6 separate regions of the Homo sapiens genome follow, and regions 1, 2, 4, 5 and 6 are each linked to region 3. Evidence: fine-mapped expression QTL. A gene starts in region 3. Each other region holds a variant in brackets. All regions are shown on one strand. Distances are between the middles of the regions. Region 1 has its middle 8.9 kb from the start of CCR3. Region 2 has its middle 78 kb from the start of CCR1. Region 3 holds the start of CCR1 (C-C motif chemokine receptor 1). Region 4 overlaps CCR3 (C-C motif chemokine receptor 3). Region 5 has its middle 39 kb from the start of XCR1. Region 6 overlaps CCR5AS (CCR5 antisense RNA).

Region 1 (4,107 bases), 25 kb before region 3:
TACTTATGTCAAGGGCACTCTATACACTGACCTGCAGTCAAGATTCAGTTTCTCCACAAAGATATCTCTTTCTGCTTAGAAAGAATGGACTCCAATCCCAGTGAGTTATTAGCAATGTGAAAGTTTCAATTTTCTTGTCTATAAATGAAGATCATTATAGTACCTGCAGGGATGTGAGAATTGGGTGAGCTAGCCTATGAGAAGTGCTTGTAGGAAGTGCGCCTCCAATGCTAACCATGATAGCATGTGTTGTTATGTCTTAATGTAGCAGGCCTTGGTACTCACCTCCCTTTCCACACTCCTGTGGCATTTATTGCCTACTTAGTCTTCTGGTGCTCAGTATCCTCTGGAGAGAAAGAAGCCCTTCCCTGTCCCCTGCCCCCTTTATTGTCTGGGATCTGAGCAAGTTAAGATATGGGGGTAGGTGGGGGAGTGAGGGAAAAAAGAAGCCTGTTAATTAAACCACAGAACTGTACAGATGTATCTACTGAGTGACAGGCAGCTCTCTTTCAAGAGGAAGAGGAGCAGAGCTGGGCTAAGGCTTCCCAGCTATTCTTTCCAAATCTGACCAATTTAAAAGCCACTCCACCTCCAGTAGAGGGGTGGAGAGAAGCCAGATGTAGACCCTTTGAGCTCCCTTCAGGAGAAAGGGAGTGGGATGTGGGAATGGGGGCTATGCATGGGCGTGAGCCCTCCACCTGGTGAGTGGACCTGGTCAACTCCATCCTCACCACTCACTGTAGCCTTAGAATTCCCCAGAAGTGATTTAAACAACCAAAGAGCTTCATTTCTTCATAAAACAAGCTAAATGCTGGTGATGGTGGTGGAAGGAAAGCCATAATAAAGAAATCTTAAAAAGCAGTGGTTCTGGGGCAGAAAACATAAATTTGGGATAAATTATCGACAGGAATATGGAATTCAGCAGTGACTCAGATCTTCATGGGAGTGACTCTACTGTGTGTTCCACATAAAAACAAGGGAAATCAGGGGGTATTTTGTGGGGTGCTCCAGTTAGGGCAATGAGTGCTCATCAATTGCAAGACTAAGCTTTATAGAATGTTAAAACGAGGCTTAATTTATGTGAGGATAAGCACAACCACATAAATTCTTGGTAGAAATATGGCTCCAGATAACATCTGGAGCCCAAGTGGACTCTGAAAGGGTATGTGGTCACTCTGGGAGATCTTGGATCTGATGTTTCACAGATGTCAAGGATCTCCCCTGGGCTTTCTTGGGTATCAAGAGCCCTCAGGCCTTTCAGGTTGAAGCTTCTCATGAACTACCCATTGATTAAACCAATGAATCCATCCCAATACATTTAATGTCTCTTAGGATAAAAGCATGCACTGTTAGAAAACACTCCTGGAGATTCACAGTGCATTAAAGGCCCCTGAGAAGTCCTGTAGTGATGAATCTGTTTGAAACCTTCCTAATCCAGCATTTCTCAAACCTATCTTTAACTTAGAAAAAAAATACTTTTCAAATGACAAGTGTTAACATCTCTCAAGGTCAGGATGCCTCAGGAGCACTCTGAGCAGTGCCGGCCTGATGCATGCACAGGCACTACAAGGGCATACTGCCCCCTGTCCATTGTCTTACCTTGACGGGGTATCCATTGCAGCCCAGGAGGTGGCAGGATGCTCTTGCAACCCTGCTACCTTACCCCTGTGTTGCAGATGGGGAAGCTGAGACTCAATGAGGGACTTGGCAAAAGCCACAGAGAGTGAAGGGCAGAGCTGGCTCTACCCCAGAGCTTGGGCTAGCCACATGGTGCTCTGTTTTCCGGCATGGTACTGCCGTCTGAAGAAGAGTTGCCTGTTGCCCTTCAGCCAAAGGTGAGGATGGCATCAAACCTGAAGGAAACCAGAACACAAAGTGGTTTCCCCAAGGTCCAGAATGGCTCGTTCTGTCCTGGCTTTTCCTACCACGGGAAAGAAATTTTTGATGCTTCTTTTGGGGTTCTTAGCTCACAGGAAAAACAGAGGTGTGTGGGAAAACCCAACCAAACACAAATGTCTTCCAATCTCCCAGATTCTCACTGCCACATTACACTGAAGCAGACACATTTCTGGGGGGCGGGAAAAAAGAGCCAAAACAACAACAACACACGCAGAAGATAGCTTAGGAGTATGGGAACATGGGAGGGGAAAA[G/A]CAAAGAACCTCAGAAATAGGAAAGGGTCAGCAATATTTTGCAGGAGAGCATAGGTCAAGCCACAACCTTGAGCATGTGAACGGAAACGATTGCCAGAGCAGCAGGGAGAAGTGCAAAGCTTCCTTTAATGCACCCACCTTCCTTCCCGGGCACCAGGGCCAGAAATGTGGGGCTCCAGCCAGACTTGTGTTTACTGTCACTTTTCTAGTGAAGTTAGTGGAAGGACTTTTGTAGCCAGCAGGGCCCCTCTCTAGCACGTTGGCAATCCTGTGTATTTCTGTGTTCCCTCCACTGACAGCACGTCACCCTCCTGTGAAAGCTTTACAAAAAGGACTATGGGCCGGGTGCAGTGGCTCACGCCAGTAATCCCAGCACTTTGGGAGGCTGAGACACGTGGATCACGAGGTCAGGAGTTCGAGACCAGCCTGGCCAACATGGTGAAACCCCGTCTCTACGAAAAATACAAAAATTAGCCAGGCGTGGTGGCGTGTGCCTATAATCCCAGCTACTCGGGAGACTGAGGCAGGAGAATTGCTTGAAATCAGGAAGTAGAGGTTGCAGTGAGCCGAGATTGTGCCACTGCACTCCAGCCTGGGCAACAGAGCAAGACTTCATCTAGAAAAACACAAAAAAGGATTATTCCCCTGATAGATAGCCTATTCTACAAAAGAGACAGGAGTGAGAACGTGGAAGCTGTGCTATTGGGGGAGGTGGTGGGCCACCTGTGATTTCAAGATAACAGGTGAACAAGAGTCTAGCATTGATCTGGGCCTTGATATTTACCATCAGTGCAACATCACATCCAGAATGGCACCAAGGATGGGGCAAACCACCGGTGCAGCCATGAACATGCCCCTCCCACTCCAGAAAGCCTAAGACCCCTCTGCAGGCTCTGAAATCAATGTTGTGCTTCCAATGACTGAGCACACAGGGATACTGAGGCAGGCCCAATCCCTAGAGATGCACTGACATTAGCTTAAGGACCCCCACGTGGCTATGCCAAACCTTCCTCAGGCTGCAGAACAGTCTAGGATGCGTCTACTACCGCTTGGTTCCCCTGCTACCTCACTGGGGTTCTGCCGGCTTTCCCAGCCCTTCCTGCTCCAGCCCACTTTCCCTCCCAGGTGCTTTTCCAACAAAATCTTTCCCTGTGTAAAACCTGCTTGGTGGCTGCTTTTAGAGATCTGGACAGACGTAACCTTCATGTTCAAATTAGCTTCAACATATTCCTTCAGGGCATTCCCGTGAGGGATTGTGTTGTTGCTTGTTCCTCTAACCATTCTGTGTGTTTCATTTTGCTCATTTTCATTTTTTTATAAGAACATCAAAAATCTAGTATCAAACTCAGTAAATAAATATGACGATGAAGAAAAAAATTGAACAATGATTTAGAAATTATGCAGAAAATACATTTTTCTCCCCAGGATATGGAAAATACTTCCTAATTAAATGCAAAAACAATGCACTTCCAATAAACAGGAACAAATTCATATAATGTTACCCAAGTAAAATATGTGAAGTTCTTATTTCCATGGTACCTCACACTGTCACATGGGCCCCTGGAAATGCAAGAGAGACATTGGGGCAGGGAAAGAGATGGGATAGATCAATAGATCTTGTTTCTCCTGAAACAAGATAAGAGGGGTGGATGAATAATGGATCTTTTTTAAAAACCACTTTATTGAAGTATAATATACAAAAAGCTGTGCATATTTAATCTATACAACTTGATGAGTTTGGAGAGAAATATACCCCTGTGAAACCCTCATCATAATCTATACCATAAACACAACTATCACTTCAAAAGTTTCCTCCTGTCCTATTTATCAAGATTATTACTTTAACGTAAGATCTACCCTCTTGGCACATTTTTAAGTATACGATGCAGTGTTGTTAGCTAGAGGCACCATGCTGTTCAGTACATCTCTAGGACTTATTCATCTTCTGTAACTGAA
Region 2 (4,107 bases), 78 kb after region 3:
TTTTGTCCTTCTTCCAAACATAAGCTAGGAGAGAATGGAAGGGGCTATTCTGGTCACCACTACTCTGTTCTAGAGACATCACATTGTCAGTGTTGAAGCCTTGACTGGTGCAGCCCCAGGGACAATTGCTTGCTGATGAGGCAAGGCCCTCGCTGCTCTGGCTCGCTTCAGACTACTGTCGAGGTGCCACCCACCAGCCTCCACCTGGAGGTCCTTCAGCTCACACATGCTCCAAGCCTGGAGCTCCATCGTTCCCAGGGCGTGGCCCCATGCCATAGTCGCTGGGCCAGGAGGCTGCTGGTCTTGGCTGTGCTATTCCATAATCTCCCTGCATACACACAGCAAAGCCCAGGCTCTTGCATTTAGCTCAGACTGCCTTTGCCCTGGTGAATTTACCTTTGCCCTTGGCCTACTAGTCCTTTCCTCTCACCGTAAGCCACCCTGCCAGATTTGCTCGACTCAATATCTGCAGTCCCTCCCCTAACAAGGCTTCTGGCTCCTGATGTGAAAGGGTTTCCCTTCTACTAAAGTTCTGTGTGCTGAGGGCTCCCAGGACAAGCAGCTTTCATCAGGCCACACACTGCCCTTGTGTCCTGCACCCTCCCTGAGAGCAATGAGATCCTCCTTGCTGCCATACGCTATACGCTTGCAGAACAAAAAGGGGGAAACACAAGGAAAATTGTTCCAGGGGATCGTCCTTCTGGAAGCCTCCAATTAATTAGGCCAAAAATTAATATATAAAGTAAACACCATTAAAATGATAGTGCAAATAAAACCACATGCTAGTCAGTAATTATCAATATTGGCAGAATAGATTTAAGTTGATCTTCCACAGAGAATGATTTTTAAAGAAAACAAAAAACCCAGTATTGGTTCAGTTGCTCTATTCACAAAGTTGGCTATATTCTCACCTTGAGTTTATGTTCCAGCCCAAGCAGAATCCAACCCTAAGCCTTTTCTTTGTAAGTTTCAAATTTGATATAACTTCAAATTTTATGCAGATGTTTCAAGAATAGTTCAAAGAACTCTGTCCAAAGATCATCTTATCCAGATGCACCAATGTTAATATTTTGCCCCCATTTGTGTTATTCTCCTCCCCTCACTTCTCTTCATATCTAATTTATATATTATTTTCCTGAACTGCTTGAGAGTAAGTTACAGACACCATGCCCTTAAAAACTTCCCAAAAATGCCCCATGTGTATTTTCTAAAAGTAAGGACATTCTCTTACATAGCCACAGAACAAGGATCAAAATCAGGAAATTTAACATTCATCTCATGCTGTTGTCTGGTCCATCTTCCATGTCTACATTTCGCCAATTGCCCTTAAATAGTCCCTGGTGAGCTGTCTTCCCATAACCCAGATCCAATCTGGGATCAAGCTTTGCATCAGTCACCTTTCATCTAGAAGGGCCTCAGGCTTTCTGAGTTTGGCTCACTCTTAGGCAGGCACCACGGGGCTCGGAGTCCTTCGCTTTTCTGCAGCCGCACCTGCTGCCTGCCCCAGTTAGAGCCTATCCACCTTCTTGGTCCCCTAAACCTCCCTGGATCATGCAGTTCTCCTTCATGCTGAACATGGAGTGAGTGTTCTCTGTTGTTTTCTTGTGACTTCTTTCCAGTCAGGAAAATGTGATTCTGGTAACTCCATGCTTGTTCCCTTTTCACACTAACCACAGTTCCCTTTTTACAGTAATCACATTTTGGTGTAAAAACAATGTCATGATAAAGGAAACTTCCTGAAAAGGAATGAGAACATAATCCTCCTCTAAGAACCTGTTCATTTTTACTTGTGCCGGCCTAGTAATACATTTTATACTGCAGTCATTGTGCTCATTTTTTTCATCTGCCCTTTCACGTTTTCTAAAATGCAAATTGTTCCCTGTCACTCCCCTCCTATGACACTCAGGCCAAACTGCAGACACGACCTAGTGAGGGCCCTGCCTACCCTCATCCCCTGACATATGGTCCTGGTGCTCCCCACGCCAAGCCACGCAGAGGCTCCTGAATACACCAGACTCTTTCTCAGTTGTATCCTTCCACCCCACTCTTGCGTCTGCTCCATCAGGCCCAACTAGTGAAGTTCGCACAAAGTGCCTAAGCATCACCTCCCTCCTGTGCCTGACCTCACCACTCCAGCCAGGGCCACTCCCTCACTGCTTGGTCCAACAGCGGTTATCAGAGTATCATTCTGTTTTGCAGATGGGCTTATGTGCCCGCCTCTCCCAGTGACTGTGTGTTTCCTGTGGGCAGCACCTATATCTTTTATTTCAATGTCCCTAGCAC[C/A]AGGCACAGTGCACAGAGGTACCAAAAAACTCTGCAAGTGAACATTGTTGCTGTAAGGCCAGCATCCTTCTTTCACCCTGTGTTCCCTTCTAAGCTGTGCATGCAAACACCCATCTCTTTTGAGCATCATGAGAGCTGCCTGGGCCAGCCTTCTCACTCATCATCCCCACCACTCCTCACCCCCTTGGTCATGCCCCGTGTTCTCCAGCTCCTCTCTGGATTCTGAGTCTGGTTTGAGTCCCACCTCTCCCATGGACTACTGGTGTAATCTTGGGAAAGATTTTACCTTTATGCCCTTGCATTTCTTGACCTCAAATCCTTTGCCTCCCCCACCTTTCAGCTACCCACACCACAAATCTTGTCACTTCCAGGATCTGCCCTATCAAGAAATCTTTAGCATCTCCTTCTCTAACCACAACTGCCTATAGTGCCTATTCTTGCACATCCTCCTTACCATCACCCCCACCTGTGTTTCCACCCCATCAAGCACTCCCTAGAAACTTCGACCCACCATTTCCCCTGGATATTATCATCCCCTTGCTGTCTTCACTTAATTCTTGATTAAGTCACATAGTCCTTACCAGTACACTCCATTGACCACACGTGAGGTGGGTATGGCCTCATTACCCCTGGACACTCCCTGAACATACTCCAGGTATGCTCTTCTGAGATGCCTGCCTGGAAGAACCCAACCTTGACCCTGTCTCGCAATCCCATTTCTCTAGTTTTGTGCCCAACCTGCTAGAGAAATTCATCCAGGTGTAGGGAAAACACAAATCCATGATGTCTAACGTCAGCTGGCCCTCGGTATCCGAGAGAGCTAGATCTATCATTAGAAGCCATGGTGTCAAGTACTGGCTCTGCCATTTTGGGCCATGAACAGAACTTCTACCTTGTACAAACCCGGCAGCACCCTCCCTTCCCCTCCAAAGCCAGCTCCCTTCCCCTCCAAAGCCAGCAGGTTTAAAAAAGTTCCAAAGTCTCATAATATATAATGCCCCAAATTTCCAGGTTTTTTAATGTGGTAATATATATATATATATATATATATATAATCAAATGTACCATTTTAAACCATTTTAAGGGTACAGTTCAGAGGCACTAAGTACTCTCATATCACACAACCATCACTACCTTCCATCTCCAGAACTTTTTCATCTTCCCAAACTGAAACTCTGTACCCATTAAGCACTAACTCCTCCCTCCCTCCAGCCCCTGGCAACCCCTATTCTGCTTTCTGCTTCTGTAAATTTGACTATTCTTGTTATCTTATGTAAGTGAAAACATACAGTATTTCTCTTTTTGTGACTGGCTTATTTCACTTAGTGTAATGTCTTCAAGGTTCATCCATGTTGAAGTAAGTGTCAGAATTTCCTTAAGGCTGAATAATATTCCATTGTACCTATATACCACATTTCGTTTATCCATTCAGCTGTCTATAGATATTTGGGTTGTTTTCACCTTTTGGCTATTGCAAATAATGCACTATAAACTTGGGAGTACAAATATCTGTTTGAGTCCTTCCTTTCAAATCTTTTGGGTGTATATCCGGAATTGGAATTGCTGGATCACATGAAAATTCTATTTTTAATTTTTCGAGGAACTGTCATACTGCTTTCCATAGCCTCTGCACCATTTTACAATCCCACCAACAGTGCGCAAGGGTTCCAGATTCTTCACATACTCTCTAACACTTATTTTCTGGTGTGTGTATGTGCGTGTGTGTGTGTGTGTGTGTGTGTGTATTTCTTTTTTGCTAAAAGCCATACTATTGGGTGTGAAGTGGTATTTTCTTGTGGTTTTGATTTTCATTTCCCTAATGAT
Region 3 (4,000 bases):
GCCCCCATTGTACACATCTGCTGTGGTGAGAGGGGTGTGTGCACTAAGGGGTTTGCAAGGCCATAGGAGACCTGAGTGTGGGTGTGGGAGGGGAGACAGAGCAGGCAACTGAGCAGCCTCTTGTTTAGGCCTTGAGCTAAAGAGAGAAAGAAGGCTTCCTAGCTCATAGCTGGTCCAGCCTAACTCTTCTGAAGAAAGATCACATGGGACTCTGAGCCAAAAGCATTGAGAAAATCTAGATCCATGCCCCCCAAATTTAAGCATGCATCAGAATCATGCCAGTCTTTGTCAAAACCTGGATTGCTTGGCCGCATCCCCAGGATTTCTGAGTCAGTATATCTGGCATGTAACCCCAGAACTTGCATGGCTAGCAATGTCCCAGGGAATGTGAATGCTGCTGGTCCAGGGACCTCACTTTGAGAACCACTGCTCTAAAGGACTTCCTCACCCCTTCCCACCCTCGATGCACCCTTCCTTAGCCCAGGGTATTTCCCAGGCCACTACAAAAGCTGTTCCTCATTGTGGTAACTTGGTTAATTGTTTGTGATCCTTCCTAAGCTATAAGCTCTCAAAGAATGGATCCAGCCTCTTTCTTCACCACTATATCCCAAGCACCTAACACAATGTCCGGCACATTGTGAGTACTGAATAAATATTTGTTCAATGAACAAGCAGATTTGCCTGGTACATCCCCTCTGTGGAATGAAACCTAGAGCAGAGCTGGAAGCCTGGTCAAGGATGAGGTACTGACCATGTCCCTTACTTTAGACAGGATCAAGGAAAAGGCAGGCCTCACAAGCCTCTGTTCTCTTTGGAAACTGATCCACCAGCAAAGTACTGCAAATAGCCAGGCACATGCAGACCCCCATTTATTTCTTTGGGGTGAAGCTGAGTGATGATCAGATGTCAAGCTTAGGCCATCTTGTCTGAATTCTTCATTTTACAGATAAGAAAACTGAACCATGAAGAGACAAGTGATCTTTTCAAAGCACATTCACACTGATGATTTCTGAAACAGTGCTTTGTAGCAATGCCGTGAGGAAGGTTAGGGGTGTCCCCACTTTATAGAAGACACAAGGGCAGAGGCAGAGTAGGTGTTGGCAGTTGTGAGGAGAGTCACAGTACTCATCATTTGTCAGACATTTTTCACTGTGCCAGGCACTCTGACATTTTTCATGTACAAGTTGACTTCGTGCTTCTCCTCTGAGGTAAGCATTCAATACTCCCATTTAGCAGAGTAGGAACCAAGACTTAGAAAGGTGAGTGATCTGCCCATGTCACAGGTGGAGAGCTGGGATTTGAACTTGGCCCATGTTTGACCATCACGTAAAACAGGAATGGGGCATCAGAAAGGGAAGGTCAAAATGTAACCAACAGACCTATATTCCCTTCATGCTGGAGGTTCCTGGGGCAAAGCCACTCTCTGAGGTTTGGTGGGGAGGGACTTGGGGAGCAGAGAGCAGAGGGACAATGAGCTCCCAGAAGCCGAGGGGCATAGGGTGCCAAAGAGAAGCTGCTGCCTCTGTGAGCACCCATGTCAGTTAGTTTTGAGGAACAGGACTCAGGGTTCCAGTTTAAATCCTTCCATTCACAATCTTTAAGAAGAAGAAAAAAAAGAAGTCTGCCGCTGACCACAAGAGCTCTATGCCCTGCCCCCATCCCACATACACACATCCCACACTTCAATTGCTCCAAACATTCTGGGAACATCTCACTGCCACCCACCTCACCCAACTCAGCTTCACCTGCCCCCAATTCCCTTAAGGCTGAGCTCCCAGGGCCAAGACTCAAGAGGCTCAGAGTGAGCAGAGAAAATCCTCGCAGTTAACTTGGCTTCCAGGAAGTGGCCACTGGTGGGCGTTGTGGCCATTCATGAGCACCAAACCACACAAAAAGAAGAACTTTGTCCCTTTCTTGTCATTTTGAAAGACTGTGAAACTGGAGCCAATTCTCCATCATCACACAGGAAGCTGAGTACTTCCTACTTGGTCAGGATCTTGAAACTTGAATTCATAAAAACCCAGAAAGCCCCAGAAACAAAGACTTCACGGACAAAGTCCCTTGGAACCAGAGTAAGTGTCACTTGTCTTTTCTGTCTTATCTGTTACTGTGGAGGGCAGTGTTGTTCAAAGACATGCATGCAGCTAGGGGCTCCTCAAAGGTAGGGGGAATTCTTTGAGTAGGCTGGGCAAATGTCTAAGTAGCCCATGGATGCATCTCCAAGGCAATTAATACTGTAGCAATACTGAGAATGGTGGATTTATAAAGCTGGGTGCTCAGATGAAATATAGGCTTTTTTGCTAAAAAGGAAGCTTACTTGAAGGATTGGCTTTTGGTTACTGATTAAGAAAGTCAGTCAGTACTAAGGGACAAAAGGTGTTTTCTGTGGAAACCTATTCAATAAGAAATTACTTGGCGGGGCGCAGTGGCTCACGGCTGTAATCCCAGCACTTTGGGAGACCGAGGCAGGTGGATCATGAGGTCAAGAGATGGAGACAATCCTGGCCATATGGTGAAACCCTGTCTCTACTAAAAATAAAAATTAGCCGGGCATGGTGGCGCATGCCTGTAGTCCCAGCTACTCAAGAGGCTGAGGCAGGAGAATCACTCGAATCCGGGAGGTGGAGGTTGCAGTGAGCTGAGATTGCACCACTACACTCCAGCCTGGCGACAGAGCAAGAGTCTGTCTGAAAAAAAAAAAAAAATTGCTTGCCAAATTCCCCCATGTAAAGGAAAACCAAACATGGTGTATGAAGAAATTATAGCAAGAGGGAAATATTAGCTAGAAAAATCTTGGCAGATGCAAGGATGATTTGATACTGAACCTATCTCTTAAGAAGACTAGAACCAAGGATCCTCAAAATTGGCACTGCTATCTTTGGAAGAGGTAGGCTTTCACTCACCCAAAGGCAAGGAGCTGGCCAGGTGATCTTGGGGGGCATCTGTTCTGCTCTACTAACAAAGACACAGGTCAGGATTTTGTTCTGAAGATAGAGGGGCATGGTGGCTCCGTATAGGTATCTACTTCATAGGTGGTCTTGGTGGGTCCCAGATTTCAAAGAAGAGATGGAAACTCCCAAAAGTTTGCACAACCTGGCACCAGGCTATGTGCCACTCACTGATCCTTTAGTTCCCGCACCGAGCAGTGGGACAGTGCTGGACTGTTCAGAATGTGGGGCCTGGGCAGTGATGTGCTGGTAAATGTTCAACAACTGACTCTTCTGAAGAAAAGATCCCTGCTTTATAACATTTGTTGATTTTCATGGTATAAATGCCCCCACTGTGGTCAGTTTCAAGCTACCAACATGCTGAATGTGGAGTGGGGAAGAGATGCACGCAATTGGCATTTATAAACCAGTATAAGCCAGCCAGCGCACCATAGGCCTGGGTGTCTTTCACCATCACAGACTGCTCTATCTCTGCTCAGAGACTTCACCAACTCCCAGGCTGGAGGACACTAGCAGTGGAGGGTCCAGGATCCAGGGCTATAGCTGACCACTGTGCAGTGGCCTTGAGGCAGACTTCTGCAGTAGACTACAGCAGGGCTGGCAGATTAGATGACAACATGGTCCTTTGGTTTCTCTTCTCGGGCCCCACCCCAGATCACCTCCCTTTAGGAACAGCATGCCTTGGAGTGGTTGCCTGGGGCTTAACAAGTTGGGGAAATAACAAATGGGTTGGAGGTAGGGGGTGTATGGAGGTGACTCGGTTTAAAATGCCACCTGACAATGTTGACTCAACTTGCCTTTGCCTTTGCCAAACCTTCCCAGAAACTGGACTCATGGGATCAGGCTTGCACTAGCTGCTCTTTGTGCTTTCCAAGCTATTTGCATACTTCCACTGTTAACCTGCCAGCCCACCGAAAAGTGCTGACTATCAAACCGAACTGTCTGCCCTCATCAGCAATGGCTGTGGCTGCAGAAATTAGAAACTGCCAACACAGCTTTGTTAGTGACCGTTAGCCTGACTCTCTCCAGAAAGAGGGCTGATTGGATCTCTC
Region 4 (4,107 bases), 39 kb before region 3:
TCAACTCACCTGGCAGCCACTCCCAGAGCCCCTGGAACTCTGGCCCAAGGCTCTCTGACTGACTCCTTCTTGGCTTAGCGGCTGAAGACTGACACAGCCTGATCGCCTCGGAAGCCCCATAGACCATCACAGATGCCGAGCTTTAGGTAACTCTCACAGTGGAGGGTAAGTCCATCCCCTTCTTAATCAATACAGAGGCTACCCACTCCACATTACCTTCTTTTCAAGAGCCTGTTTCCCTTGCCTCCATAACTGTTGTGGGTATTGATGCCCAGGCTTCTAAACCTCTTAAAACTCCCCAACTCTGGTGCCAACTTAGACAATACTCTTTTATGCACTCTTTTTTAGTTATCCCCACCTGCCCAGTTCCCTTATTAGGCCGAGATATTTTAACCAAATTATCTGCTTCCCTGACTATTCCTGGACTATAGCCGCATCTCATTGCTGCCCTTCTTCCCAATCCAAAGCCTCCTTTGCGTCCTCTTCTTGTATTCCCCCACCTTAACCCACAAGTATAAGATACCTCTACTCCCTCCTTGGCGACCAATCATGCTCCCCTTACCATCTCGTTAAAACCTAATCACCCTTACCCTGCTCAATGCCAAGATCCCATCCCACAGCACGCTTTAAAAGGATTAAAGCCTGTTATCACTCGCCTGCTAAGGCATGGCCTTTTAAAGCCTATAAACTCTCCTTACCATTCCCCCATTTTACCTGTCCTAAAACCAGACAAGCCTTACAAGTTAGTTCAGAATCTGCACCTTATCAACCAAATTGTTTTGCCTATCCACCCCGTGGGGCCAAACCCATATAACCTCCTATCCTCAATACCTCCCTCTACTACCCATTATTCTGTTCTGGATCTCAAACATGCTTTCTTTACTATTCCTTTGCACCCTTCATCCCAGCCTCTCTTTGCTTTCACTTAGACTGACCCTGACACCCATTAGGCTCAGCAAATTACCTGGGCTGTACTGCCACAAGGTTTCACAGACAGCCCCCATTACTTCAGTCAAGCCCAAATTTCATCGTCATCTGTTACCTATCTCGGCATAATTCTCATAAAAACACACGTGCTCTCCCTGCTGATCCTGTCCGATTAATCTCCCAAACCTCAATCCCTTACAAAACAACAACTCCTTTCCTTCCTAGGCATGGTTAGTGCAGTCAGAATTCTTACACAAGAGCCAGGACTGCACCCTGTAGCCTTTCTGTCCAAACAACTTGATCTTACTGTTTTAGCCTAGCCCTCATGTCTGCATGCAGCAGCTGCCACTGCTTTAATACTTTTAGAGGCCCTAAAAATCACAAACTATGCTCAACTCACTCTCTACATTTCTCATAACTTCCAAAATCTATTTTCTTCCTCATACCTGATGCATATACTTTCTGCTCCTTGGCTCCTTCAGCTGTACTCACTCTTTGTTAAGTCTCCCACAATTACCATCATTCCTGGCCCGGACTTCAGTCCAGCCTCCCACATTATTCCAGAAACCACACCTGACCCTCATGACTGTATCTCTCTGATCCACCTGACATTCACCCCATTTCCCCATATCTCCTTCTTTCCTGTTCCTCACCCTGATCATGCTTGATTTATTGATGGCAGTTCCACCAGGCCTAATCACCACACACCAGCAAAGGCAGGCTATGCTATAGTACAAGCCACTAGCCTGCCTCTTAGAACCTCTCATTTCCTTTCCATTGTAGAAATCTATCCTCAAGGAAATCACTTCTCAGTGTTCCATCTGCTATTCTATGTGCTATTCTACTACTCCTCAAGGATTATTCAGGCCCCCTCCCTTCCCTACACATCAAGCTCGAGGATTTGCCCCTGCCCAGGACTGGCAAATTAGCTTTACTCAACATGCCCTGAGTCACAAAAACTAAAATACCTCTTAGTCTAAGTAGACACTTTCACTAGATAGGTAGAGGCCTTTCC[T/A]ACAGGGTCTGAGAAGGGCACCGCAGTCATTTCTTCCCTTCTGTCAGACATAATTCCTCAGTTTAGCCTTCCCACCTCTATACAGTCTGATAACAGACCAGCCTTTATTAGTCAAATCAGCCAAGCAGTTTTTCAGGCTCTTAGTATTCAGTGAAACCTTTATATCCCTTATAGTCCTCTGTCTTCAAGAAAAGTAGAACGGACTAAAGGTCTTTTAAAAACACACCTCACCAAGCTCAGCCACCAACTTAAAAAGAACTGGACAATACTTTCACCACTTTCCCTTCTCAGAAGTCAGACCTGTCCTCGGAATGCTATAAGGTACAGCCCATTTAAGTTCCTGTATAGATGCTCCTTTTCATTAGGCCCCCAGTCTCATTCCAGACACCGGACCACCTTAGACTGTGCCCCAAAAAAACTTGTCATCCCTACTATTTTCTATCTAGTCATACTCCTGTTCTCTGTTCTCAACTACTCATACATGCCCTGCTCTTGTTTACACTGCCAGTTTACACTGTTTTTTCAAGCCATCACAGCTGATATCTCCTCGTGCTATCCCCAAACCGCCGCTCTTAACTCTTGAAGTAAATAAATAATCTTTGCTGGCAGGACTATGCTGAATCTCCTTAGGCACTCTCTAATCAGATGTCCTAGGTCCTCCCGATTCTTAGACCTTTTATACCTGTTTTTCTCCTTCTCTTATTCCATTTAGTTTTTCAATTCATACAAAACCATATCCAGGCCATCACCAATCATTCTATACGACAAATGTTTCTTCTAACATCCCCACAATATCACCCCTTACCACAAGACCTCCCTTCAGCTTAATCTCTCCCACTCTAGGTTCCCACGCCGCCCCTAATCCCGCTTGAAGCAGCCCTGGGAAACATCGCCCATTCTCTCTCCATACCACCCTCCAAAAATTTTCGCCACCCCAACACTTCAACACTATTTTGTTTTATTTTTCTTATTAATATAAGAAGGCAGGAATGTCAGGCCTCTGAGCCCAAGCCAAGCTATCCCATCCCCTGTGACTTGCACATATACGCCCAGATGGCCTGAAGTAACTGAAGAATCACAAAAGAAGTGAATATGCCCTGCCCCACCTTAACTGATGACATTCCACCACAAAAGCAGTGAAAATGGCCGGTCCTTGCCTTAAGTGATGACATTACCTTGTGAAAGTCCTTTTCCTAGCTCATCCTGGCTCAAAAATCACCCCCACTGAGCACCTTGCGACCCCCACTCCTGCCCGCCAGAGAACAAACCCCCTTTGACTGTAATTTTCCTCTACCTACCCAAATCCTATAAAACGGCCCCACCCTTATCTCCCTTCGCTGACTCTCTTTTCGGACTCAGCCCGCCTGCACCCAGGTGAAATAAACAGCCATGTTGCTCACACAAAGCCTGTTTGGTGGTCTCTTCACACGGACACGCATAAAAGCAAGTAGCCACCATAGTGGACAGTACAGGCCTAGTGTCCAGCATGATGCCTGACAAATGAAAGATGCTTAATAAACTCTTCTTAAGTGTATGAAAGGATGGAGTAGAATAATTTTTACTCTGCTTTGCACTGTCCAGACTACACATCTGAAATATTATGTTCTGTTCCAGGCACCAAATTTTAAGAGGGTTAGTATCAACCTAGACTATAGAAGGAAGTAGGATGATAACAGTCCCAAAACATCAGCCATAGTTGGCAGAACTTGGAATGTTTTGTATGAAAAATAATAGCCTTTGCATGAAATCAAACTAAATGCCCATCAATGACAGATTGGATAAAGAAAATGTGGTACATATACACATGGAATACTATGCAGCCATAAAAAAACAGATAGTGTCTTTTGCAGGAACATGGATGGAGCTAGAAGCTATTATCCTTAGCAAACTAATGCAGGGAAAAAACCAAATACGACATGTTCTGACTTATAAGTGGGAGCTAAATGATGAGAACTCATGAACACAAAGAAGAGAACAACAGACACAGGGGTCTACTTGAGAGTGGGAGGAGGGAGAGGAGCAGAAAAACAAGTATTGGCTACTAGGCTTAATACCTGGGTGATGAAATAATCTGTACAACAAACCCCCATGGCACGAGTTTACCTACGTAACAAAGCTTCACATGTACCCCCAAACCTAAAATAAAAGTTAAAAAAAAGGAAAAT
Region 5 (4,107 bases), 140 kb after region 3:
TGCTGAGGCTGGTAGAATTTGCTGCATCAGCCCTAGAACTACCTTCCTAACAGAAATTATCAGCCTCCCTCTATGTAAGCCACTTTAGTCATGTGCTCTGTTACTGGCAGCCAAGAGCATCCTAGTGAATCCACCAATGACCTTATTCCCCTGCTTAAAATCTTTCATTATTTCTGCATTCAACACTAATTTCAAATTCTATAGCTTAACACACAAAGACCTTTGCCTCCCTCCTCTGCCTTTCCCACCACCCATCTTAGCACACACTTTCCCCTCTTGAGCCAGAGTCCTTTGAATCAGACCTGAGATTTTCTGCCTCCTGAGTTTCTCGTTTGCTGGCCCCTCCACAGCATGTCCTCTTTCCTCTTCTCTCCCTGTTCTCACCCCTATGCACTTTTCAAAACTTAGCCAAGCCACTTCTTCCAGGAGGTTTTCCCTAAATCTCCATGTGACAGTTTTGAAATATGGTCCCCAAGTTAGTTAACAGTCCTCTAATAGAAAGTGATCATGTGTTCCCTGGGGCAGGAATTTGGGCCTCTGTGACCTTTCATAGCTCTGGGCACCAAAGCAGTGTATAATTGACTAATCCAGGGAGGAGTGTTATTCAAGGACACACAGGTGACCTTTGTGGTAAGAATGTGCTATGGGTGACATGAGCTGGCCAGAACTGAAGGCATGGAACCCAATTTAGCCCAACTCATCTCAATCCAACCAGCTAATGCTGCTTATCTTTCCAGTCTCAAACCTTGATGTTCCTGCCTCTTACACCATGCACCTCACCCACACTGAACCCCCTGATGGCCCAGAATATCCACTAGTGCATGAATATTCCCCTAGATCTGGCATTCAGCCCCCTCTCCCTGGATAACTCCTACTTGTCCTTCTGATCCCCCTTTGACATCACCTCCTCCAGGAAGCCTAACCTGCCTCTTCAAAGCTGCTATGCTCAGAGCCTGCCCCTCACATAGAACTTACCACACTGCCTCCTAATCATCCATTTCCATATCTGTGACCTCACAAGTATCTTCACAGGTATTCCTTTTTGAACCCCCAGCACCTAGAGGTATGCTATGCCCAGCTGTGAAAACAAATGTTCACAGCCTGATTGTGCCAATGGCCTGGCTGAATATGCTATGCTCCTGTCCTCCCTTCAGCAAGCATGTATTGAGGTCTGACTCTGTACTGCAGGTATATGGCTTCCTCATTGCACTACTGTCATCATTCAGGTTGCTGGAAAAATCAGCTATTGAGGACCCACCATCTATGTAGTAAGTATCTAACTCATATTAATTTATTTAATCCTCACACCAACTCAGTAAAGTCGGTGTTATAATTATCTGCAATTCAGATAATAAAACTGAGGTGCCAAAATTGCATAGGCACTGAATGCTAGAACCTGGGTTTAAACCCCCGTGGTCTAACTCCAGACCCATGGAATTAACCTCTACTCTGCCTGGCTTCCTTCTTCATGACTGCTTAGACACTTGTTACAAATGCAGAGGCCTGGGCCCCATCCAAAGAGCTTCTGTTTCTACAGGTCTGGGTGGAGCCTGGGAACCTATATATGCCAGGAGCCTCACCTAGTGTAGTCCACACCAACTTCCCACTAAGAAATGATGGCTGTGGCTGGGCGGGATGGCCGACGCCTATAATTGCAGCACTTTGGGAGGCCCAAGTGGGTGGATCAAGAGGTCAAGAGATTGAGACCATCCTGGCCAACATGGTGAAACCCCGTCTCTACTAAAAATATAAAAATTAGCCGGGCGTGGTGGTGCGTGCCTGTAGTCTCAGCTACTCAGAAGGCTGAA[G/A]CAGGAGAATCGCTTGAACCCGGGAGGTGGAGGTTGCAGTGAGCTGAGATTGCACTGCTGCACTCCAGCCTGGTGACAGAGTGAGACTCCGAAGAAAAGAAAGAAAAAGAAAGAAAAGAAAAGAAGCAGAGAGAGAGCGAGGGAGGGAGGGAGGGAGGAAGGAAGGAAGGAAGGCAGGCTGTGCCCAAGAGCACCAAGGAGTATGTCTGAGACTACATGGTCTGGTCCTAGTGAGCCTGTCTTGCTGCATCACAACACACTCTGTGCTTACTACCCTCGCTCCCTCCACCAGGAATGCTGTCGCTAGCCTCCCTCCTTCCACCCACCCTTATGTGCTTGAGCAGCAAAGGAGTGAGACAAGGGAGTGAATATATTTTCCTCGGATCTTCCTCTGAGAATGAGTTAGCAAATGCCCCAGGGACATCCCTACGTGGCCTCTTCCGGAGGCCCTGGAGCAGGCAAAGACGCCTCAAGCTTCTCAAATGCCTGTTTAGTCTTTGGTGCTACCAGAAATATCCAAAAGCCTTCATCTAGGACCCTACACACATTTAGAGCACACCGCCCAGGGCTCAGTCCTCTAAGTGCTAACCTTGGTCATTCTCTGAAGCTCCTCACAGCCCTGGTGATTCCAGCAGTAATTTGCTCTGCTTGAGACAGATCTGACCCAGAGAGCAAGGCAGCAGTGGAGCTTGGTGTAGCCCGGGGCCACCACCTGCATTTCCCCAACTCTAATTGGTGATGCCGTGTAAGTGGGCTGTGTGTGGTTGGGTGAGCAGAGCAGGCTTCAAAGAAAAGGGCCTCCACCCAGGAGTCGGTGAATTTTACTGTCACCCGACATCAAGGGAGTATCATATGATATTTGGCAGGTGGCCCAGAACAGCTCAGCTGCCGGAGCTTGTTGTAGAGTGGACAGGTTAGCATTTGGGGGATTCCCCAGAGTGTGGCAAATGGAAGCTCAGGCACCTCTCTTAAAGCCACATCAAAGTTAAGTTGCTAGAAAGCTAGCAAGACTCCTGCAGGTAACAGTCCCTAAGGGGAGCCTGAAAGTGCGGGATGGGTGAAGGTGGGAAGGAAAAGCAGGTTGGGGATTTTCCCCTAACCAATATTACTTGTTTTGACTATTGCTACATAACAAAGTGCCCCAAAATGTAGAGGCTTAAAAGAACCATTTTATTAGATCTTATAATTTTGTGACCCAGAAAGTTGAGTAGAGCTTGGCTGGGTAACTCTATTTTTTTTTCCTTTTTTTTTATTTCTTTATTTTTTTGAGACAGGGTTTTTCTCTTGTTGCCCAGGCTGGAGTGCAATGGCGGGATCTTGGCTCACCACAACCTGCACCTTGCTGGTTCAAGCAATTCTCCTGCCTCAGCCTCCCGAGTAGCTGGGATTACAGGCATGCGCCACCACACCCGGCTAATCTTGTATTTTTAGTAGAGACGGGGTTTCTCCATGTTGGTCAGGCTGTTCTTGAACTCCCAACCTCAGGTGATCCACCCACCTCAGCCTCCCACAGTGCTGGGATTACAGGCGTGAGCCACTGCACCCGCCCTGGGTAACTCTTCCAAGTGGCATCAGTGGGGGTCCCTTGGTGCTGTTGAGCTGGTGGATACCTGGGGCTGAGCAGAGAAGGCTGGAGAGCTAGGCGCAGCTGGAACCATCTACCATTCCTGCATGTGGCCTCACCAGCATGGTGGCTTCATGTGTCGCACTTCGAAAGTGGTGGTCAGAGCACCAAGTGAGAATGTTCCAAGAGACCCAGGTGGAAGCTGCAAGGCTTCTTATGAGCTACAAGTCCAAGAATGTCACTCCAGCCACATTCTATCAGTCAAGCAAGTCAATGAGGGATTTCAAGGGAGTGGAATTGGACTTCATCTCTCAGTGGGAGGAGCAGTAAAGAATTTGCAGCCATATTTAACCTCCCATGATACAAGAGAGCTAGGAAAAACTTGCAAGGCTCATTGTGGGATTTTTTTACTCCATACATGTTTGTTGAGTTCCTGGTATGTGCCAGCTACTGCCCTAGGCACTGGAGAGACAGACCAATGAACAATACAGAGACATGATCCCTGCCCTTATGGAGACTGTAGTCTAAAAGAGTCTAACAAATAATTACGCAGTGCCTGGCACATGATATGTGTTCAGTCAATGTTGAATACTGGTATTATTATTGTTAAATAATCATTAGGGGCCAGACACATTGGCTTACACATGTAATCCCAGCACTTTGGGAGGCCAAGGTGGGAGGATCACTTGAGGCCAGGAGTTTGAGACCAGGATGGGCAACACAGCAAGACTTTGT
Region 6 (4,107 bases), 160 kb before region 3:
GAGATTGTGAGTTCAGCTTCAGACCACCACAGTAAAGCAAATATCTCAAAAATAACCTTTTTGGTTTCCCAGTGCATATAAAAGTTGTGTTTATCCTATACTGTAGTCTATTAAGTATGCAATAGTATTATGTCAGAAAAACCAATGTGCATACCTTAATTAAAAATATTGTATTGCTAAAAATGCTAACCATCATCTGAGCCTTCAGCAAGTCATAGTGTTTTTGCTGAAGAGGATGGCGGTCTTGTTTTGATGTTGATGGCTGCTTACTGATCAGGGTGGTGGTTGCTAAAGCTGGGGGTGGCTGTGGCAATTTCTTAAAATAAGATGACAATGCAATTTGCCACCTTGGTCGACTCTTCCCTTCACAAAAGATTTCTCCATACCATGTGATGCTATTTGATAGCATTTTACCCACTTCTTTCAAAATTGGAGTCAATCCTCTCAAACCCTGCCACTGCTTTATTAACTAAATTTATGTAATATTCTAAATCGATTGTTGTCATTTTAACCGTGTTCACAGCATCTTCACCAGGAGGAGATTCCATCTCAAGAGACCACTTTCACTGCTCATATGTAAGAAGCAACTCTTCATCTGTTCAAGTTTGATCATGAGAGTGCGGCAATTCAGTCACAACTTCAGGCTCCACTTCTAGTTCTAGTTCTCTTGCTGTTTCCACCACATCTACAGCGACTTCCTCCACTGAAGACGTGAACCCCTGAAAGTCATCTATGGGGGTTGGAATCAATGTCTTTCACACTCCTGTTAATGTTGGTATTTTGACCTCCTCCCATGAATTACAAATGTTCCTAATGGCATCTAGAATAATGACTACTTTCCAGAAGCTTTTCAATTTGCTTTGCTCAGATCCATCAATGGAATCACTATCAATGGTAGCTATATAAACTATATAAGGCTATATATATATATATAGCTATTTCTTAATAGCCTTATGAAATATATTTCTTAATAAGACTTGAAAGTCTTGGTCCATGGACTGCAGAATGGATGTTTGTGTTAGCAGGGATGAAAACAACATGAATATTCTCGTACATCTCCAACACAGCTCTTGATCGACATGGTGCAGAGCAGTAATATTTTGAAAGGAATCTTTTTTTCTGAGCAATAGTTCTCAATAGTGGGCTTGAAATATTCAGTAAACCATGCTGTAAACAGATGTGTTGTCATCCAGGCTTTATTGTTCCATTTATGGAGCACAGATAGAGTAGATTTCGCATAATTCTTAATGACACCAGGATTTACAAAATAGTAAATGAACATTTACTTCAACTTAAAGTCATCAGCTGCATTCACCTCTAAAAAGAGAGTCAGCCTGTCCTGTGGAGCTTTGCAGCTTGCCTTGACATCTCCTCTCTAGCTGTGAAAGTCCTGGATGGCATCTTCTTCCAACATAAGACTGTTTTGTCTACACTGAAAATCTGTTGTTTCGTGTAGACACTTTCATCAATTATCTTATCTAGATTTTCTGGATAACTTGCCACAGCTTCTCCCTTTGCACTTGCTGCTTCATCTTGCATTTTTATGTTATGGAGATGTTGTCTTTCATTAAACCTCACAAACCAACCTCCGCTAGCTTCAAACTTTTCTTCTGCAGCTTCCTCACCTCTCTCCGCCTTCATAGCATTGAAGAGAGTTAGAGTCTTGCTCTGGATTAGGCTTTGACTTAAGGAAATGTTGTGGCTGGTTGGATCTTTTCTCCAGACCACTCAAACTTTCTCCATATTAGCAATATGGCTGCTTTGTTTTCTCTTCATTTGCATGTTCCCTGGAGTAGAGCTTAAATATCCTTCAAGAACTTTTCCTGTGAAGTCGCAATTTGGCTAACTGGTGCAGAGGTGAGCTTTTGGCCTTGACTTTCAATATGTCCTCCTTACTAAGCTTAATCATTTCTAGATTTTGATTTAAAGTGAGAGACGTGGGACTTTTCCCTTCACTTGAACACTTAGAGGCCATTGTAGGGTTATTAATTGGCTTAATTTCAATATTATTGTGTCTTGGGCTGGGCACAGTGGCTCATGCCTGTAATCCCAGCCCTTTGGGAAGCTGAGGCAGGTGGATTGTTTGAGTCTAGGAGTTTAAGGCCAGCCTGGGCAACATGGCAAAACCCTGTCTCTCCTAAAAATACAAAAAAAAAATTAGCCGGGTGTGATGGTGCACACCTGTAGTCCCAGCTTGGGAGGCTGAAGTGGGAGAATCACCTGAGCCTGGGGAGGCAGAGGTTGCAGTGAGCTGAAATCACATCATTGCACTCCAGCCTGGGCAATCAGAGTGCGACTCTGCCTCAAAAAAAAAA[T/A]ATATATATATATATATATAATTGTTATAAATATATATATATATAATTGTTATATATACATTATTGTGTCTCAGGAACAGGCAGTCCATGGAGCAGTCAGAACACACACAACATTTATTGATTGTTTGCCATCTTACATGGGTGCACTTCATGGTGCCCCAAAACAACTACAATAGTGACATCAAAGATCACTGATCACAGATTACCATAACAGATATAGAAATAATGACAAAGTTTGAAATATTGGGAGAATTACCAAAATGTGACACAGAGATGTAAAACAAGCACATGCTGTTGGAAAAACAGCACCAATAGACTTGCTCGAGGCAGGGTTGCCACAAACCTTCAATTTGTAAACAACAACAACAACAACAAAAACAATATCTGTAAAGCACAATAAGACAAGGTATGTCTATATTTGCCCTTTTTCCTAACACTCCTCTCCCACTTCTCAATGCTAGTCCATGCCTAGAAGAGGGAGGTACAAGAATTCCCCACAAGGTAGACCACTAGGCACGTGCTGTGGAGGATGGAGCAGGAGGGGACATAGGGACAGAATGCACCCCCTCCTCTAGGCAGGGCCCTCCAGAATCCAGTCAACCCTAAGGCCCCATTGAAACAATGACTGGAGAGAAATGAAATAATTTCATATTGTGAGCTGATTACATTAGGATGTGTTATAAGGGATAGTATGAAATAAGATGTTAGTCCATGCCCTTACCCTTGCTTGCTGAGCTGCTGGGCCTGCAGAGCCTTTCAGGTGCTGGGAGGGAGAGGTTTTTCCCAGCATAACCCTCGGCTCACATCTCACTGTGGCTCCAGGCTGGGGCTGCCAAGGCCGGACCTTGCATTACAGGACTCTGTTTACACACACACACACACACACACACACACACACACACACACACACACAGAGTGCCGAAGTGGCAATGTCTGAAGAAATTTCCAGCCTCATTCCTCCCATGCCTGGAACCAATCTCTTCTCCTCAATTCATGCACTGTCTTCCAGAGGTCAGCTCACCAGCCCATACTCCTTCTGTCACAGTGTGGCCCCTCTGGGTGGCCCTTGGTGGTTTTTCCTGTGGGCTAATCTCACCTGAAGCCTTTTCAATTTGTCAGGGAAGTTTTCATAATGAGCAAAAACAAAAGAGGAAGGAAGGATGGGCTCTTGAAGGTTTACTTTCTGGAGGCTTCGGGGCCTCTTTGCAAAATGCTCCAACCTCCCCAGCTGCTGGGGATATCACAGATCAAGGGAGGTGGCATGGGGTGGGCTATGCCAAGACCCTTCCTTACCAAAAAGTCTTCAGACACTCATCCCTCAGAATGATGATGAGGGATCATCATCTTCCACCTGCTTAACTCGAACAGCCTACTCAAATGTCCCCAGAATAAACGAGACTTGAGGATTCCACTTTAGAAAGAGAGATGGTTGGCATTTTTTTTTTTTTTGAGATGGAGTCTGGCTCTGTTGCCCAGGCTGGAGTGCAGTGGCCCGATCTCGGCTCACTGCAAGCTCCGCCTCCTGGATTCATGCCATTCTCCTGCCTCAGCCTCCCGGATGGCTGGCAATTTTTAAATGGCAGTTTCTTTGGCAGCAATAAAATCCTGCTGTGGCTGTTATTCCTATGATGCAAGACTGTCATTGCATTAGTCACTCTGTCCTCCAGGCTCTCAGCACTTTTCACAGATGCCTCTGTTCCTGCTCTGCACAGCGCACTGTGACTGTGCACAGGACCTTCTCTACCCCTCCCACTCCACAGCTGGCCCTGGACTTGGAGGTGTAAAGGACACT

The links.
Region 1: its variant is fine-mapped to the expression of CCR1 in whole blood (TOPMed, PIP above 0.99).
Region 2: its variant is fine-mapped to the expression of CCR1 in whole blood (TOPMed, PIP above 0.99).
Region 4: its variant is fine-mapped to the expression of CCR1 in whole blood (INTERVAL, PIP 0.92).
Region 5: its variant is fine-mapped to the expression of CCR1 in blood mononuclear cells (TOPMed, PIP above 0.99).
Region 6: its variant is fine-mapped to the expression of CCR1 in whole blood (INTERVAL, PIP above 0.99).

What each region holds. Positions count from the first base shown.
Region 1 is chr3:46,231,514-46,235,620 of GRCh38, reverse strand. It overlaps a transcript of CCR3 not described here. Among named protein-coding and RNA genes, the nearest start is that of CCR3, 8.9 kb to the left of the region's middle. The variant G/A (reference allele first, on the strand shown) is at 2,152.
Region 2 is chr3:46,128,385-46,132,491 of GRCh38, reverse strand. No RefSeq gene overlaps it. Among named protein-coding and RNA genes, the nearest start is that of CCR1, 78 kb to the left of the region's middle. The variant C/A (reference allele first, on the strand shown) is at 2,284.
Region 3 is chr3:46,206,354-46,210,353 of GRCh38, reverse strand. CCR1 (C-C motif chemokine receptor 1) reads left to right here and starts at 2,041. Exons shown (of 2, transcript NM_001295.3): 1 at 2,041-2,072.
Region 4 is chr3:46,245,551-46,249,657 of GRCh38, reverse strand. All of the region lies in intron 1 of CCR3 (C-C motif chemokine receptor 3), which reads right to left. Among named protein-coding and RNA genes, the nearest start is that of CCR3, 5.1 kb to the right of the region's middle. The variant T/A (reference allele first, on the strand shown) is at 1,943.
Region 5 is chr3:46,064,060-46,068,166 of GRCh38, reverse strand. It overlaps a transcript of XCR1 not described here. Among named protein-coding and RNA genes, the nearest start is that of XCR1, 39 kb to the right of the region's middle. The variant G/A (reference allele first, on the strand shown) is at 1,809.
Region 6 is chr3:46,361,462-46,365,568 of GRCh38, reverse strand. CCR5AS (CCR5 antisense RNA) reads left to right here. Exons shown (of 4, transcript NR_125406.2): 4 at 524-1,585. Among named protein-coding and RNA genes, the nearest start is that of CCR5, 7.4 kb to the left of the region's middle. The variant T/A (reference allele first, on the strand shown) is at 2,316.